Linked DNA regions of Homo sapiens: region 2 is linked to region 1. The links come from fine-mapping of genetic effects on gene expression. A gene starts in region 1. The other region holds a variant in brackets. All regions are shown on one strand. Distances are from middle to middle.

Region 1 (8,681 bases):
CTTAGATCCCTCGCATGCACAGTTCATAAAAGGGTTCGCACTCCTATGAGAATCTAATCCTGCTGCTGATCTGACAGGAGGCTGAGCTCAGGTGGTAATTGTTCACATGCCGCTCACCTCTTGCAATGCGGCTCAGAACCTAACAGGCCATAGATGGTACCAGAACCCCTGGCCTAAGAGGCTCACAGAAAAAATGGAAAGGGTGGAAATTTAAGAGAAACCAAGGGGACTCCAGAAACCAGGCTGCAAGATCCAGGCATAGGCAGGAGAGGGAGGATCTGTGCCCTCAATTTTGGCAGAGGAAGCCCTGGATGGGAGGCAGCCCTGGGCGAGGAGGGGCATCTTCCTCTGATGGAGATTGGGGAGCCAATAGAAAGGAAGATCTGGCCAGGCACAGTGGCTCATGCTGTAATCCCAGCACTTTGAGAGGCCGAGGCAGATGGATCACCTGAGGTCAGGAGTTCAAGACCAGCGTGGCCAACATGGTGAAACTCTGTCTCTACTAAAAATACAAAATCTAGCCGGGCATGGTGGCAGGTGCCTGTAGTCCCAGCTACTCAGGAGGCTGAGGCAGGGGAATAGCTTGAACTCAGGAAGGGGAGTTGCAGTGAGCCAAGATCGCGCCACTGCACTCCAGCCTGGGCGACAGAGTGAGACTCCATCTCCAAAAAAAAAGGGCCTGGAGCTGCACTCCTGAAAGATAAACAATAGATATTTGCCACACAGGCATACAGATTCCACATGAGAAAATCTGCTGGCGACCGAGTCTGGCCAGGAGCAGAACAGGCAGCCTCACAGGGACATGAAGGCTGTCCACCTCTCGGGGGGTGTGGCTGAACCTCTTGGAGCCCTTCCACCCTAAGCCTCTGGCACTATCACTCCCTCAGCTTGCCAGCCCATCCTATCTCAATAATTTTCTTCTTCTGAGCCAGGGGAGGCCATCCTCCGAGGGCTTCCTCAACTTCCCTCTTCCTTGCTTCTGAGAAAAAGCTGATCTTCCAACTCACATGCTGTGTACCCACTCCTCCTGACTCCTCCCCAATTCACGTGCTCTGTACCCACTCCTCCCACACAGTGCTCCTTCCATCCACTGCCCTCTCCTTCCCATTTGTCTCTGGATGGTGCTGTTCTCTCTCCCTCTCTCTCCCCCCGTCCCCAGCCCCCGACTGCCCCTTCCAAATACAAACATACTCAGGAGACATCCGCTATCTACTTGACACTTTTTATGAATTCCCATGCCAGTGTAGAACCTAGAAAAGCCAGATATTTGCAAGCCTCTCTTGTAAATAGGGTGCAGTCGCTCAGGTTAGAGTGCAGTGGTATGATCTCAGCTTACCTCTGCCTCTCAGGTTCAAGTAATTCTCCTGTCAGCCTCCGGAGTAGCTGGGACTACAAGCATGCACCACCAAGTCCAGCTAATTTTTGTATTTTTAGTAAAAATGAGGTTTCGCCATGTTGGCCAGGTTGGTCTTGAACTCCTGACCTCAGGTGATCCGCCTGCCTTGGCCTCCCAGAGTGCCCTTATATTTGTGTGTGTGTGTGTGTGTGTGTGTTGTGTTGAAGATTGTAAAATATGCCCGCAAATTCCTTCACCCGGTATGCAATCCCTTTTGGAATGTGAATTTGCTGCTCCTCTTATGCAGAAGGGAAGTTCATTTCTCTCCCTTGACTCTTAGCCTTGTGATTTCTTTGAACGTGAGAATGCAGCAGGAGATGTATATGACCTTGAGATGCCAGTCCAGGCTTCTGGAGGATGTGACCAAGACGGCCCAGCCCACAGCCCACCCCACTGCCAGTTATGTAAGGGAGGTGTACTAGTTTGTTTTGTGCTGTTATAAAGGAATACCGGAGGCTGGGTAATTTATAAATAAAACAGGTTTATTTGGCTCATGGTTCTGCAGGCTATACAGGAAGCACAGTGTCAGCATCTGCTTCTGGTGAGGCCTCAGGGAGCTTCCAATCATGGTGGAAGGGGAAGGGGAGCTGTCATGTCACATGGAGAGAGAAAGGGAGTGAGAGAGAGAGAGGAGGACATGCCAGGCTCTTTTTGAACAACAAGCTCTCATGCAAACTAAAAGAGTGAGAACTCACTCGTTACTGAAGAATGGCACCAAGCCATGCATGAGGGATCTGCCCCCATGACCCACACACTTCCCACTAGGCCCCACCTCCAACATTGGGGATCAATTTCAACTTCAGATTTGGAGGAATTATCCCAACTATATCAGGAGGTCATCTTGAAACTTCCAGCCCTGCTGTCTCTCCATCAGAATCCAACTGCGGAGGAACTGCCCAGCTAACCCTCAGAATCATAAGAAATAATAAATCTTAGCTGTTTTAAACCACTGAGTTTTGGAGTGAATTATGCAGCAAAAGCTGAAACCGATGGTGTCCTGCATGTCCCATAGAACTACATATAACCATTTCCCCACCTTATTCAATCTTTATTAAGGCTACTTTGGTTGCAAACATCAGAAACCAACCCCAGCCAGCTTAAACAAAAGGAAAGTGCATTAGAATGTCCCTAATGTAAGTCAAGGAACAGAAAATAAAGTTGGGAAGGGGAGAAATCATGGCGTCCGCGGACTCATTAGCAGCAGGGTATCCTGGAGTTTCCGTCCAGAAAACTGCCATTAACACAATCCCGTGCTAATGATTGGACTAGTAACTTCAAGTTTTCAGAGCAGACGGTCTGACCCGCCCCATTTGGGCCAGTAGCCGCCTCTGAATCATTTAGCTATGATGAGGTGGGCGGTGGTGGTGGGAGGCAGGATGCGGACACGTAGAAAGTAGGTGAATTCGTGGGAATCCTGACGTGGAAGCCGTGAGCGCTACTCACGGCCTGGGCTTGCTTTTTAACTGCTATATATATATTTAGATTTTCCAAAAGTTTTTTCCTTTCAAATCTTTTTGCAGCTACTGTATCAAGGCTCTTTTTTTAAGAAAGGGAAAATAGTGCAGGACCACTTCTGAAACTGTAACAAATGGGGCAACGTTGTATTCTTCTGTACAATGTAACTGGATCTGTGAAGGTTTTTATTTTTTATTTTTTATTTTTTTTGAGACGGAGTCTTGCTCTGTCGCCCAGGCTGGAGTGCAGTGGCGCAATCTAGGCTCACTGCAAGCTCCGCCTCCCGGGTTCACGCCATTCTCCTGCCTCAGGCTCCCGAGTAGCTGGGACTACAGCCGTTCACCACCACGCCGGGCTAATTCTTTTTATTTTTATTTTTTTAGTAGAGATGGGGTTTCACTGTGTTAGCCAGGATGGTCTCGATCTCCTGACCTCGTGAGCCACCCGCCTCGGCCTCCCAAAATGCTGGGATTACAGGCGTGAGCCACAGCGCTCAGCCGGATCTGTGGAGGTTTTATGAGCAAAAAGGGAAAACAGTGCGGGGCCACTTTTGAAACTGTAACAAATGGGGCAACGTTGTATACTTCTGCACAAAGTAACTGGATCTGTGAAGGTTTTATGTGTAAAAAGGGAAAAGAGTGTGGGGCCACTTTTGAAACTGTAACAAATGGGACAACTTTGTATACTTCTGCACAACGTAAGTTAATCTGTCAAGCTTTTATGTGCAAACGAATCTCTGAGCGAGTGAAATGGTTTTGATCAAAATCTAAAAGAATTTGGGGAGTGTAGATATAAAAGGGAGTTAAAGCCAGAGTAACAGGTGTTGTGAACACAGAGAGGAAGAACCGGTAGGTTTCGAGTGAGGACAGAGAGTGTCGCCCCCGGCCGCAGCCTGGGGGGGCTGCATATCTGGAGGGATCATCTCTTGCCCCTAACTGACGACTCCTGCAGAGTGACGCGTGCCTGGGACAGCGTCTGCTGGGACCAGGGTGGACGGGCACCTCAAATAAGTGGGCCAGGGACCTGGGCCTGGGCCCCTCGGACTGGCAGGCACGCCCGCACCCCCGCGCCTCGCGCTCTCTACGGAAGCAGCCGCCCCCACGGAGCGGGCGGAGGCCCGGGGGCCGGGAGCGCGCGTGGAGGCTCCGGGACTGAGGCGGCGCCACCGCCTCCCGCCTGCAGCTGGAGCGCGGGCCGCCGCGGCGACATCTTGCTCAGGAGGAAAGCGCGCGGGAGAGCGAGCTGCGCTTTAGCTGCTGCGCCACGCGCGCCTCGGGCCTGGGCGCAGAGGATCGGCCGGGCGCGGCGGGAAGGAGGTAAGGCAGCCCCGCGGGACCGCACGCCTAGCTCAGGGGACGCCTCCGGAGACCCCAGGACCACCCGATCACGGGCCCCGCCGCTCCCCTCCCTCGCTCCTCCTCCCGCTCAGCCCCAGTCTCCTGCGGTCCCCTCGCCCCAGCCCGCAGCCTCCCTGCCTTCCGCCCACTGAGCAGCCCTCCTCGGCGGCGCGCCCCTCGACCCCAGCAGCCCCGGTCCCCGCCTCTGCTCTTGGTCCCGGCCGCCGGGTGAGGCCGCCCCCGCCCCGCCCCCTCCCCGCCCTCGCCGGGACCCGCCCCCTGCTCCCGTCCGGGCGGGGCTCCGGGTTTAAACGTCGCGGCGGGCAGGGCCGGCGGAGGGGCGGGGCGGCCTCTGTGTCGTGTACCGGGTCCCGTAGGCTGCGGGCAGCGAGGAGCGGCTGGCGCTCGAGGCGGCGGACGGCACCATGTCCCCGGGGAGCGGGGTGAAGAGCGAGTACATGAAGCGCTACCAGGAGCCGCGCTGGGAGGAGTACGGGCCGTGCTACCGCGAGCTGCTGCACTACCGCCTAGGCCGCCGGCTGCTGGAGCAGGCGCACGCGCCCTGGCTCTGGGACGACTGGGGCCCGGCCGGCTCCTCGGAGGACTCGGCGTCGTCAGAGTCGTCGGGCGCCGGGGGCCCCGCACCCCGGTGCGCCCCGCCCTCGCCCCCGCCGCCCGTAGAGCCGGCGACCCAGGAGGAGGCGGAACGGCGGGCGCGCGGGGCCCCGGAGGAGCAGGACGCGGAGGCCGGGGACGCGGAGGCCGAGGACGCGGAGGACGCGGCTCTGCCAGGTACCCGGCCCGGAGGGGAGCGCGAGGGGCCTGCACGCAGGGACGGTTTGCTCTAAGCTCTGAGCAGCTGATCTCTTATTTCTTGCGCCACTCGGGGCTGGCTCTTCCTTTTTTTTTTTTCGGTTGACAGAATCCGTCTCTCTTGACAAAATAGGGAAGGTGGCAGCCTTTGCCACCCTTTATTTCCTTAATTAGGTGGCTTTCGGTCGAGCCAGCGGTGAACTCAATTGAAGCGCCGCTGGCTGAGTCTGGGGTCTTTCCTCGCGGGCCTCTGCGGCTTGGCAAACCTCTGAATCCCATCTTATTTCTTGGCGAACCACTGAGTCCCATCTGCTTATTTCTAGGCGCCCATTTTTGATCAGAGGAGCCCCAGCTTTAATCAGATTCTCAAAGGTAACCCAAAAGGTTAAGAACCACAGAGCTAAGCTTTGTCTGATGAATGGGGCCATTGTTTTCCGTATTAACTCCCCGACCTCGCTACGCTGTCCCTAAAGAATATTTTGCATTTGTTTACGTGGAGTGTTGAATAACTTGGCTGTGAGAGCATCTTTATAAGTGCTAGGGCCTCTCCCCTTCCGTCCCTCCCCATCCTCCCTCGCCTGTCCAGATCCGAAAGCGCCGGTGGCGCTGCGCGTGTTTTCAAGGCATGGCCCCTTCACCTTCTTTCCTGCCCAGAGGCTTGCAGGGCTGGGGACCCAGTTGAACGCCTCAGTACAGCCTGGAGTAACCAATGGTTCCTTCCAGATCACTGGATTTTAAAAAGGCTCGAGTGAGGAAAACATGGAAAATGTATTGGGAGCCTGTTAGACATTCAGTCACTGATCTGGGAATATGTATGTTGTCATTTAATATTCAAAACAATCCCAAAAGAGACCATGTTGTAATCTTTTTTTTTTTTTTTTTTTGAGACGGAGTCTCGCTCTGTGGCCCAGGCTGGAGCGCAGTGGCGCGATCTCGGCTCACTGCAACCTCTGCCTCCCGGATTCACGTCATTCTCCTGCCTCAGCCTCCCGAGTAGCTGGGATTACAGGCACGCGCCACCACGCCCGGCTAATTTTTGTATTTTTAGTGGAGACGGGGTTTCACCATGTTGGTCAGGCTGGTCTCAAACTCCTCACCTCGTGATCCGCCCGCCTCGGCCTCCCAAAGTGTTGGGATTACAGGAGTGAGCCACCATGCCCGGCCCTAATCTCAGTTTTATAGATGAAAAAACGGAAGCTCAGGATCAGTGACTTTATTCATTTATGTGTTTATTTTTGTTTACCCGATTGCAAGCCAATCAGACTCTTCCTGGCTTCTCTGTGAGAGGCTGAGGAGGAGATGAAATTTCGGCTATGAGCCGGGTTGCTTTGCTCTTGGTTTTACCATCTTCAGCTATTTTCAGCTCATCATCGGAGGCAGGGCTGCCTCCTCCCATCATGATGTTACTTGTGAATCCCCACAAATCCTGATGCTTCAGTGATCACTGCTAGAAATGCAAATAACAGAAGGTGGAGGGGGTAGGGAACATGCCTTCCAGATTATTCCTGTGGGTACTGATCTGCTAGCTAAATTGAGATGTACTTTATCAGGCTAAATGGCTTTTCTCTCCCCGATCTTTTATTGTTTGTGATGGAGTTGTCAAATATTTGCATGCAATATAAATACAATTTTTAGGCAGCGTTGTGATATGGATGGTGCCTGTATTTACCAGCTCAGGTAAGCTCTGAGTTCATGATTATTTTGGTTTCCTTAAATATAGCGTCCTCTCAGTTATTTCTTCCCTGCTAACGTTTCTGGTTTAGGCATCAGGAAGAAGAAAGGATGTTTTCTGCTTTCAGGACTCAATCGCAGCATCTTTTGTTTTGCTCCTACCCGTAAGGCCCTCTTGACTCCTGTGTTGCTTGCACAAGATTAAATATCCTGGTTTTTAAGTGGATGGTTTTAAATACTAGTGCAATGAGCACTCTTTTGAGTTTCTATAAAATATAAAATTTTTTACTTTCCCTGAAGCCATAGATGCACATAGAATCACGTAGTTCTGTCTGACTTATTACAAAAGCACATCAGCCCTATGCCATACATAACACCCTGGTTTTTCCTTTGGTATTTATTTCTGTATCTCCAAGTAACATGGCTTTTATTGACATGTGATTGTTTTTTTTCAGTTTTTAACATTATCTATTGACTTTAATTCTTTTTTACTGCTCTCCTCACCCACACACACACGGCCCATCTCCACACCTGCACAATACAGTCCTCATAGAGTTTGTTGGATTCATAATTAGTATGTACCGTATTGTGCCCATGGAAAAAGTTACTCAAAGCTGACCCATACTATTTCCCATGATTCCCTTTTTTCTTTCACAATACAACCAACACATCAGGTTCACTATCACTCTTGTCATCTTAAGATGCCTCTCCCAGGGCCCCTGACCTACTTCTGTCTGGGCTGGCTGCTGCTCCTGTGGGCTGCTGCCTGGCTGGCATCTTGGGAGGGCCCTTGGCCATCCTCCTAGGACCTTTCTTGGCTTCTCTCTTGGGTTTGAGTCTCTGTCGTGTGCCTTTCATGTCATTTTCTTTCTTGGTTTACCCCTTCTTGGTGGAGCACATCTTCTAGTAGATTCCCAAGAAAGGATGGTTCAGAGGTTAGCTTTCTTTGAATGCCAAGAGATAGCTTTATTCTACCCTTACAATTTGGTGAGTGTGGCTGGGCATGGAATTCTAGGTTGGAACAGTTGTCCGTAGAAACTCTGGGGGCATTCCTCCTTATGTGTTATGACTGCTGATGTTACAGCCTGCCTCGTTATGATTCTTGATCTTGATCTTTTGTAGGTAATGTGTTGCCCTCAGGAAGCTTTCACGGTCTTCTCTTTGGCCTTTATGTTCTGACATTTTTCCTTGATCTAGATCTGTTTTCCTTTGCTTTGCTGGGCACTTGGCAGGTCTTTATAGACAAACTCATGTTTTTAATTCCCGGAAGTTTTCTGGAATTATTTTCTTATTTCTGTTTTTTTTTTTTTTCCCATTTCTTTTTTTTCTGAAGTCCTTAGTTGGATATTAGACTTTATCATTTTATCCTCTAATTTTCTAAGTTTTTTCTTGACAGATTTTCATCTTTTATTGTTTTGTTTTCTGGGTGATACTCTCAGCTGTATCTTCTAAATCTCTTATTACATTTTCCATTTGAGGGATCCTATTTTTCTTTTAAATGTAAGAGCTCTTGAATTGTTTTCTGGGCTGCCATTTATTCCCTCCCTTACCTCCCTCCTTTCCGTCCCTTTTTATTTCTTTTTACAACACAGTATCTGGTTCCTGATTGATGCATGTAGGGTTTTATCTTACTGAGGATATATATTAGAATTTTTCGTTTGTTTTCTTCTCTTTCTGTGTTTCTTCAGCACAATCTTTCACTTCTGCCTCTTTGTTTCTTTTTGCTGGTAATTCTCTATTTTCATGTTAGGCACTTTTCTCAAATGTCTAATGATCCTTCGTTTCTCATTCTTATTTAAGGGATGGATACTAAAAAGCTGTTAGGAAATTCTGTGTGTGTGTGTGTGTGTGTGTGTGTGTGTGTGTGTTGGGGTTTGGGGGTGGAAGTGCTTGTGAACCGTGAGATTCTTTTCCTCCCATAGCCAATATGCTATGAAGAGTGGTCTAGACTGTCTCCGATTCCTTACTTCATAGTCACGTTTTCTTTTTAGGTTAGATTTTATTTTTAG
Region 2 (8,681 bases), 73 kb before region 1:
TACCATTGCAGGAACGGAGACGTGCGATATGGAATATAGTTATATGGAATAACTTAACCCTACTTGAACTTCTTCTCAAGTAAATGCTTCAAAAGGATGCCTGTCATCCCTGGGCGCGTGTCAGGGCGCATGTTAGGGCGTCATCTCAGGGCGCATGTCATCTGTTTCTAGAATCTGGATTTTCTGCTAATGTTTGTTTCAGCCTCTAGTGCTCAGTGCAAGGCAGGCAGGTGGAAGCAGGACCATGCAGGTACAGTGAGGCTCCCGGAAGACCTCCATGCTCAGATCTCCAGGTGCCCTGGGGCGGAACCTACCAGGGTCATTCTCCCAGGTTTGGGGGATGGGGGAGCTGCATGTGTTTTCCCACACCACGCTGGCACTGGAGACCAGGAATTTTTAAGCCAGGAAACTCAGCATCTCTGAAATTATCATGGGATCTCTTCCCGACATGGGCAAGGCAAACACTGGTTCAGGCTGGGATGAGGATGAGGTGAGAGGCCCCAGAATCTGCACTTGCACTTGTACCACCAGCACAGAGGATGTGCCTCACTTCCCACACCCAGTCCCAGCCCTGCACTGGGTGGCTGTATTTTTTCCAAGGGGCAGCCCCGGGCACCATGAGGCAAAGCGAATTGTTCCAGGCTACAGGAGAGCACAGGCACTGTGGCCCCCCAGCCAGGGAAGTGTCTGTGTCCTTTTTCCTCCATGCACTTTCCTGGTTATGGGACTACATGGGAGGGAGCTGTGCTGCTCCTCAGTCTGAGAAATTAAGACATCTAAAATCAAGTTGACATTATTCTTCAGCTTATTTTCCAAACGGATCCAGAACCCCCTCCCCTGCTATTGCCCTGCTTATTGGCACCCCCTCCAATCCTCAATTAATTCACTAATTTATTCAACCGACACTTGCTGAGCACCTACAAATCAGTGTCTCGGCCCTCAGGGAGCTGGCAGTCTAGCTGAGAGGCAGATATTGATCAAACAGCAACATGGGCTGGGTGCAGTGGCTCAGGCCTGTAATCCCAGCACTTTGGGAGGCCAAGGTGGGTGCATCACCTGAGGTCAGAAGTTTGAGACCAGCCTGGCCAACATGGTAAAACCCCATCTCTCTCTCTCTCTCTCTCTCTCTCTTTTTTTTTTTTTTGAGACAGAATCTCGCTCTGTCACCCAGGCTGGAGTGCAGTGGCACCATCTCGGCTCACTGCAACCTCCACCTCCCGGGTTCAAGTAATTCTCCTGCCTCAGCCTCCTGAGTAGCTGGGATTACAGGCATGCACTACCACACCCCGCCAATTTTTGTATTTTTAGTAGAGATGGAGTTTCACCATGTTGGCCAGGCTGGTCTCTGTCTCACGTGTCCGTGTGAAGAGATCACCAAACAGGCTTTGTGTGGGCAACAAAGCTGTTTATTTCACTTAGGTGCAGGGGGACTGAGTCCAAAAAGAGAGTCAGCAAAGGGTGGTGGATTATCATTAGTTCTTATAGGTTTGGGGATAGGCGGTGGAGTTAGGAGCAATGTTTTGTGGGCAGGGGGTGGATCTCACTAAGTACATTCTCAAGGGTGAGGAGAATTACAAAGAACTTTCTTACGGGTGGGGGAGATTACAAAGTACATTGATCAGTTAGGGTGGGGCAGAAACAAATCACAATGGTGGAATGTCATCAGTTAAGGCTATTTTCACTTCTTTTGTGGATCTTCAGTTGCTTCCGGCCACCTGACCTTGTGATCCGCCCTCCTTGACCTCCCAAAGTGAAGGGATTACAGACGTAAGCCACTGCGCCCTGCCCATCTCTCTTAAAGATACAAAAATTAGCCAGGTGTGGTGGTGGGTGCCTGTAATCCCAGCTACTCAGGAGGCTGAGGTGGGAGTTTCATGCGCCTTGTGAAGAGACCACCAAACAGGCTTTGTGTGAGCAACAAAGCTGTTTATTTCACCTGGGTGCAGGTGGGCTGAGTCCGAAAAGAAAACAAAGGGAATTAAGGGTGGGGCCGTTTTATAGGATTTGGGCAGGTAAAGGAAAATTACAGTCAAAAGGGGGGTTGTTCTCTGGCGGGCAGGAGTGGGGGTCATAAGGTGCTCAGTAGGGGAGCTTTTTGAGCCAGAATGAGCCAGGAAAAGGACTTTTACAAGGTAATGTCATCACTTAAGGCAAGGACCGGCCATTTTCACTTCTTTTGTGGTGGAATGTCATCAGTTAAGGTAGGGCAGGGCATTTTGACTTCTTTTGTGATTCTTCAGTTACTTCAGGCCATCTGGGTGTATATGTGCAAGTCACCGGGGGTGTGATGGCTTGGCTTGGGCTCAGAGGCCTGACATTCCTGCCTTCTTATATTAATAAGAAAAATAAAGCAAAATAGTGTTGAAGTGTTAGGGCGGCGAAAATTTTTGGGGGGTGGTATGGAGAGAGAATGGGCGATGTTTCTCAGGGCTGCTTCAAGTGGGATTAGGGGCGGCGTGGGAACCTAGAGTGGGAGAGATTAAGCTGAAGGAAGATTTTGTGGTAAGGGGTGACATTGTGGGGTTGTTAGAAGAAACATTTGTCATTTAGAATTATTGGTGATGGCCTGGATACAGTTTTGTATGAATTGAAAAACTAAACAGAATAAGAGAAGGAGAAAAACAGGTATTAAAGGTCTAAGAATTGGGAGGACCCAGGACATCTAATTAGAGAGTGCCTAAGGAGGTTCAGCATAGTCCTGCCAGCAAAGATTATTTACTTTAAGACTTAAGAGTGGCAGTTTGGGGATAGCATCCATATCAGCTGTGATGGCTTGGAGAAACAGTATAAACCGGCAGTGTAAACAAAAGCAGGGCATGTGTGAGTAGCTGAGAACGGTGAATAGGATTATGACTAGACAGAAGATAGTAGGGATGACAATTTTTTTGGAGCACCGTCCAAGTTGGTCTGGTGTCTGGAATGAGACTGGGGCCTAATAAAAAGGAGCATCTATACAGGAGCTCAAATGGGCTGTACCTTGTAGCATTCTGAGGACAGGCTTGAATTCTGAGAAGGGAAAGTGGTAAAAGTATTGTCCAGTCCTTTTTAAGTTGGTGGCTGAGCTTGGTGAGGTGTGTTTTTAAAAGACTATTAGTCTGTTCTACCTTTCCTGAAGACTGAGGACCGTAAGGGATATAAAGGTTTCACTGAATACTAAGAGCCTGAAAAAAATGCTTGGCTGATTTGACTAATAAAGGCCGGTCTGCTATCTGACTGTATAGAGGTGGGAAGGCCAAACCGAGGAATTATGTCTGACAGAAGGGAAGAAATGACCGCGGTGGACTTCTCAGACCCTGTAGGAAAGGCCTCTACCTATCCAGTGAAAGTGTCTACCTAGACTAGGAGATATTTTAGTTTCCTGACTCGGGGCATGTGAGTAAAGTCAATTTGCCAGTCCTGGGCAGGGGCAAATCCCCGAGCTTGATGTGTAGGGAAGGGAGGAGGCCTGAACAATCCCTGAGGGGCAGTAGAATAGCAGATGGAACACTGAGAAGTGATTTCCTTGAGGATAGATTTCCAGGATGGAAAGGAAATGAGAGGTTCTAAGAGACGGGCTAGCGGCTTGTAACCTACATGGAAGAGGTTATGAAATGACAACAGAATAGAATGGGACTGTGAGGCTGCAAGGAGATATTTTCCTTGGTCTAAGAACCATTTGCCTTGTGTGGGAAGAGATTGATAGGTGGAAGTTTCAGCAGGGGAGTAGGTGGGAATGACTGATGTGAAGGAGAAAAACTGGCTGTAAGGGACAGAAGGTGGAGAGCTAGCTGCTTGTCTAGCCACCTTATCAGCATAAGCGTTGCCTAGAGCAATGGGATCTGATGCCTTTTGATGGCCTTTGCAGTGAATGACTCCAGCTTCCTTTGGAAGTGAAGCGGCCTTGAGCAGAGTTTTTATTAGAGGCATTAATGATGGAGGACCCTTGCGTAGTGAGGAAACCTCTTTCAGCCCATGTGACCACATGGTGGTGCAGAATATGAAAGGCATATTTAGAATCAGTATAGATATTGACGCATAGTCTTTTTGCAAGAGTGAGGGCTTGAGTTAAGGCAACTAGTTCGGCTTTCTGAGAGATAGTGGAGGGGGGCAGAGCAGTAGCCTCAATGATAAATGTGGAAGATACTATAGCGTAGCCTGCCTTTGCTGGTGAGTGGCGATTAGGCCTGGTGGAACTGCCATCAATAAACCAAATGTGATCAGGGTGAGAAACAGGAAAGAAGGAAACGTGGGGATATGGGGTGAACGTCAGGTGGATCAGAGAGATGCAGTCATGAGGGTCAGGTGTGGTATCTGGAATAATGTGGGAGGCCGGATTGAAGTCTGGGCCAGGAACAATGGTAATTGTGGGACTTAACAAAGAGTGAGTACAGCTGAAGGAGCTGAGGAGCAGAAAGTGTATGCATCAGGTGTGAGGAAGAAAATAGATTTTGGAAGTTATGAGAACTGTAGAGAGTGAGTTGAGCATAGTTTGTGATTTTGAGGGCCTCTAAAAGTATTAAAGCAGTGGCAGCCACTGCAAGCAGACATGAGGGCGAGGCTAAAACAGTAAGGTCAAGTTGTTTCGACAGAAAGCCTACAGGGTGCGGTCCTGGCTCTTGTGTAAGAATTCTGACCGCACTAACCATGCCTAGGAAGGAAAGGAGTTGTTGTTTTGTAGAAAGGATTGGGGTTTGGGAGATTAGCCGGACACGATCAGCAGGGAGAGCACGAGTGTTTTTATGAGAATTATGCCGAGATAGGTAACAGATGAGGTTGAAATTTGGGCTTGACTGAAGTAATGGGGGATGTCTGTGAAGCCTTGCAGCAGTACAGCCCAGGTAATTTGCTGAGCCTGATGGGTGTCAGGATTAGTCCAAGTGAAAGTGAAGAGAGGCTGGGATGAAGGGTGCAAAGGAATAGTAAAGAAAGCATGTTTGAGATCTAGAACAGAATAATGGG[C/T]TGTGGAGGGAGGTACTGAGGATAGGAGAGTATATGGGTTCGGCACCATGGGGTGGATAGGCAAAATAATTTGGTTGATAAGTCGCAGATCTTGAATCAGCCTGTAAGCCTTGTCTAGTTTTAGGACAGGTGAAATGGGGAAATTGTAAGGGGAGTTCATAGGTTTTAGAAGCCTATGCTGTAGCAGGCGAGTGATAACAGGCTTTAATCCTTTTAAAGTGTGCTGTGGGATGGGATATTGGCGTTGAGCGGGGTAAGGGTGATTAGGTTTTAATGGGATGGTAATGGGCATGTGATCGGTTGCCAGGGAAGGAGTAGAGATGTCCCATACTTGTGGTTAAGGTGGGGGGATACAAGAGGAAGATGCAAAGGAGGCTTTGGGTTTGGGAGAAGGCTGGCAATGAGATGCGGCTGTAGTCCAGGAATAGGGAAGCAGATAATTTAGTTAAAATGTCTTGGCCTAATAAGGGAGCTGGGCAGGTGGGGATAACTAAAAGAGAGTGCATAAAAGAATGTTGTCTAAGTTGGCACTAGAGTTGAGGAGTTTTAAGAGGTTTAGAAGCCTGGCCGTCAATACCCACAATAGTTATGGAGGCAAGGGAAACAGGCCCTTGAAAAGAAGGTAATGTGGAGTGGGTGGCCTCCGTATTAAGAAGGGGATGGACTTATCCTCTACTGCGAGAGTTACCTAGAGCATCTGTGACGGTCCTGTAGGCTTCCGAGGCGATCGGGCAGTGTCAGTCTTCAGCTGCTAAGCCGAGAAGATCTGGGAAGGAGTCAGTCAGAGAGCCTTGGGCCAGAGTTCCAGGGGCTCTGGAACTGGCTGCCAGGTTAGTTGAACAGTCTGATTTTCAGTGGGGTCCCACACAGATGGGACATGGCTTAGGAGGAATCCCGGGCTGTGGGCATTCCTTGGCCCGGTGGCCAGATTTCCGGCACATGTAGCAAGCTCCTGTGGGAGGAGGTTCTGGAGGAACGCCTGGCAGCTGCGGTTCAGGCGTTTGGAAGTTCTTGTGTGCTGGAGATGTGGCTGGGGTTTGTCTCACAGTGGAGGCAAGGAATTGCAACTTTTTTCTATTATTGTACACCTTGAAGGCAAGGTTAATTAAATCCTGTTGTGGGGTTTGAGGGCTGGAATTTAAGTTTTGGAGTTTTATTTAATGTCAGGAGCAGATTGGGTAATAAAATGCATATTGAGAATAAGACGGCCTTTTGACCTTTTAGGGTCCAGGGCTGTAAAGCGTCTCAGGGTTGCTGCCAAACGAGCCATGAACTGGGCTGGATTTTTATATTTGATGAAAAAGAGCCTAAACGCTATCAGATTTGGGATAAAGAAAAAGGAGCATTAACCTTGACTATGCCTTTAGCTCCAGCCACCTTTTTAAGAGGAAATTGCTGGGCAGGTGGGGGAGGGCTAGTCACGGAACGAAACTGTAAGCCGGACCAGGTGTGAGGAGGGGAGGCGATAAAAAGATTATAGGGTGGAGGAGCGGAGGCTGAGGAAGAATTGGGACCTAGCTCAGCCTGGTGAGGAGGGGAGAGGTCAGATGGGTCTGTAGAAAAGGAAGATTAGAAAGACTCAGCGACCCTTGGGGTTGGGACTGAGGGGACAGGCAGGAGGGAAAGAAGGAAGATTTGGGACAAGTTGCATTGGGCACAGAGACTAGGAAGGGACTGATGTGTAAAAGAATGCCTGGACATCAGGCACCTCAGACCGTTTGCCTATTTTACGACAAGAATTATGTAGATCTTGCAGGATGGAAAAATTCAAAGTGCTGTTTTCTGGCTATTTGGAACCACTGTCAAGTTTGTATTGGGGTCAAGCGGCATTGCAGAAGAAAATAAGGCATTTAGGTTTGAGGTCAGGTGTGAGTTGAAGAGGTTTTTAAGTTCTTGAGAACACAGACTAAGGGAGAAGGAGGAGGAATGGAGGGTGGAAGGTTGCCCATAGTGAAGGAGGCAAGCCCAGAGAAAAGAGAGCATAGAGACACGGAGGGAAGGGGTTTGGGGGTTCTTACCCTCCAGAAAAGTGGGAAAGGGGTTGGGGCATGGAAATAAGGGATTGGGGGTTCTTGCCCCCTAGAAAAGTGAGACTTGCCACTAAGGGTGAAGGAGAAGGGGTTGAAGGGTACTTGCCCCTCCCCCAGAAAAGCAGAGAAGGGGTAGAGACACAGAGATAAGGGGTTGGGGTACTTGCCCCTTCCCCAGAAAAGCAGGACTTGCCGCTAAGAGTGAAGCAGAAGGGGTTGGGGGTTTCTTGCCCCCCAGAAAGGCAGAGAAGGGGTAGAGACATGAGAAGGGGTTGGGGTACTTGCCCCTCCCCCAGAAAAGCGGGATTTGCTGCTAAGGGTGAAGGACCAAGTCAGGCGTCCCTGCATGGTCTGACACCTCTGAAACCTGGGTTAATAATCAGAGAGGTGTCCCTGCAATGATTAGACACCAAGGGAAGGCTGCCTTGCCAGTCCATGACCGGCGCCAGAGTTTTGGGTCCACAGATAAAACGTGTCTCCTTTGTCTCTACCAGAAAATGAAAGGAATTGAAATTAAGAAAAGGGAGAGATTGAAGAGTGGAAAGGAGAAAGTGGTTGAGGGACAATGAGAAAGGTTGGAGAAGAGAGTAAGAAGAGGTCACTTACCTGATTTAAAATTGGTGAGATGTTCCTTGGGCTGGTGGGTCTGAGGACCTGAGGTCGTAGGTGGATCTTTTTCACGGAGCAAAGAACAGGAGGACAGGGGATTGATCTCCCAAGGGAGGTCCCCTGATCCCAGTCACAGCAACATATTTCATGCGCGTCCATGTGAAGAGACCACCAAACAGGTTTTGTGTGAGCAATAAAGCTGTTTATTTCACCTGAGTGCAGGTGGGCTGAGTCCGAAAAGAAAGCGAAGGGAGTTAAGGGTGGGGCAGTTTTATAGGATTTGGGCAGGTAAAGGAAAATTACAGTCAAAAGGGGGGTTGTTCTCTGGCTGGCAGGAGTGGGGGTCATAAGGTGCTCAGTAGGGGAGCTTTTTGAGCCAGGATGAGCCAGGAAAAGGACTTTTACAAGGTAATGTCATCACTTAAGGCAAGGACCGGCCATTTTCACTTCTTTTGTGATTCTTCAGTTACTTCAGGCCATCTGGGCATATATGTGCAAGTCACCGGGGCTGCGATGGCTTAGCTTGGGCTCAGAGGCCTGACAGGAGAATCCCTCAAACCCGGGAGGCAGAGGTTGCAGCCAGCCGCGATTGTGCCATTGCCCTCCAGCGTGGGCAATAGAGTAAGATTCCATCTCAAGCAAACAACCAAATAGCAACTTGAACCAATGTGCCTCTGCACATTTCACACATGCTACAAAGGAGGGGTGTGGCATGGGACAGCATTGACCAATCCTCGGTCAGGAAGGGCTTCCAGAGCAAGTGCAGCTCTGAAAGGCAGGTTGAACACCTCTAGCAAGGTCCTGGGATCCTTTAAGTCCTGAAGGGAGGTCAGTGTAGCTGGGAGAGAGGGTAGGGGTGGCGTGGGGTTGTCAAGGAGGCACAGTTGGCCAATCTAGCCTGTGCAGACCCTCCACTGCTGAATGTATATATAATTTTTATTTTAAGAGCAATGGAAATCCATTGAACTGTTTTAAGGAGACAGAGGGAGAGAGAAACACACACACACATGCACACAGAACCTGGCCTCGGTGGGTGTAGGAGGGAGAACTGAATGATAGCTTTCAGGTCTCTGATTCACACATTTGGATGCTCAACGAGGGCAC

What was found. PIP is the estimated chance that this variant, and not a neighbour inherited with it, causes the effect.
Region 2: its variant is fine-mapped to the expression of CCSAP in whole blood (TOPMed, PIP 0.96). The same link has a PIP of 0.9 or more in monocytes.

What each region holds. Positions count from the first base shown.
Region 1 is chr1:229,338,398-229,347,078 of GRCh38, reverse strand. It overlaps CCSAP (centriole, cilia and spindle associated protein), which reads left to right and starts at 4,032. Exons shown (of 4, transcript NM_145257.5): 1 at 4,032-4,167; 2 at 4,566-4,980. The coding sequence starts at 4,614. RefSeq lists silencers at 2,583-2,877, 3,724-4,583, 4,784-4,983.
Region 2 is chr1:229,411,857-229,420,537 of GRCh38, reverse strand. It overlaps LOC124904541 (a long non-coding RNA gene), which reads right to left. Exons shown (of 2, transcript XR_007066925.1): 2 at 8,496-8,681. Among named protein-coding and RNA genes, the nearest start is that of ACTA1, 18 kb to the left of the region's middle. RefSeq lists enhancers at 1,425-2,178, 2,179-2,934, 3,566-4,067, 5,330-5,830. The variant C/T (reference allele first, on the strand shown) is at 4,939.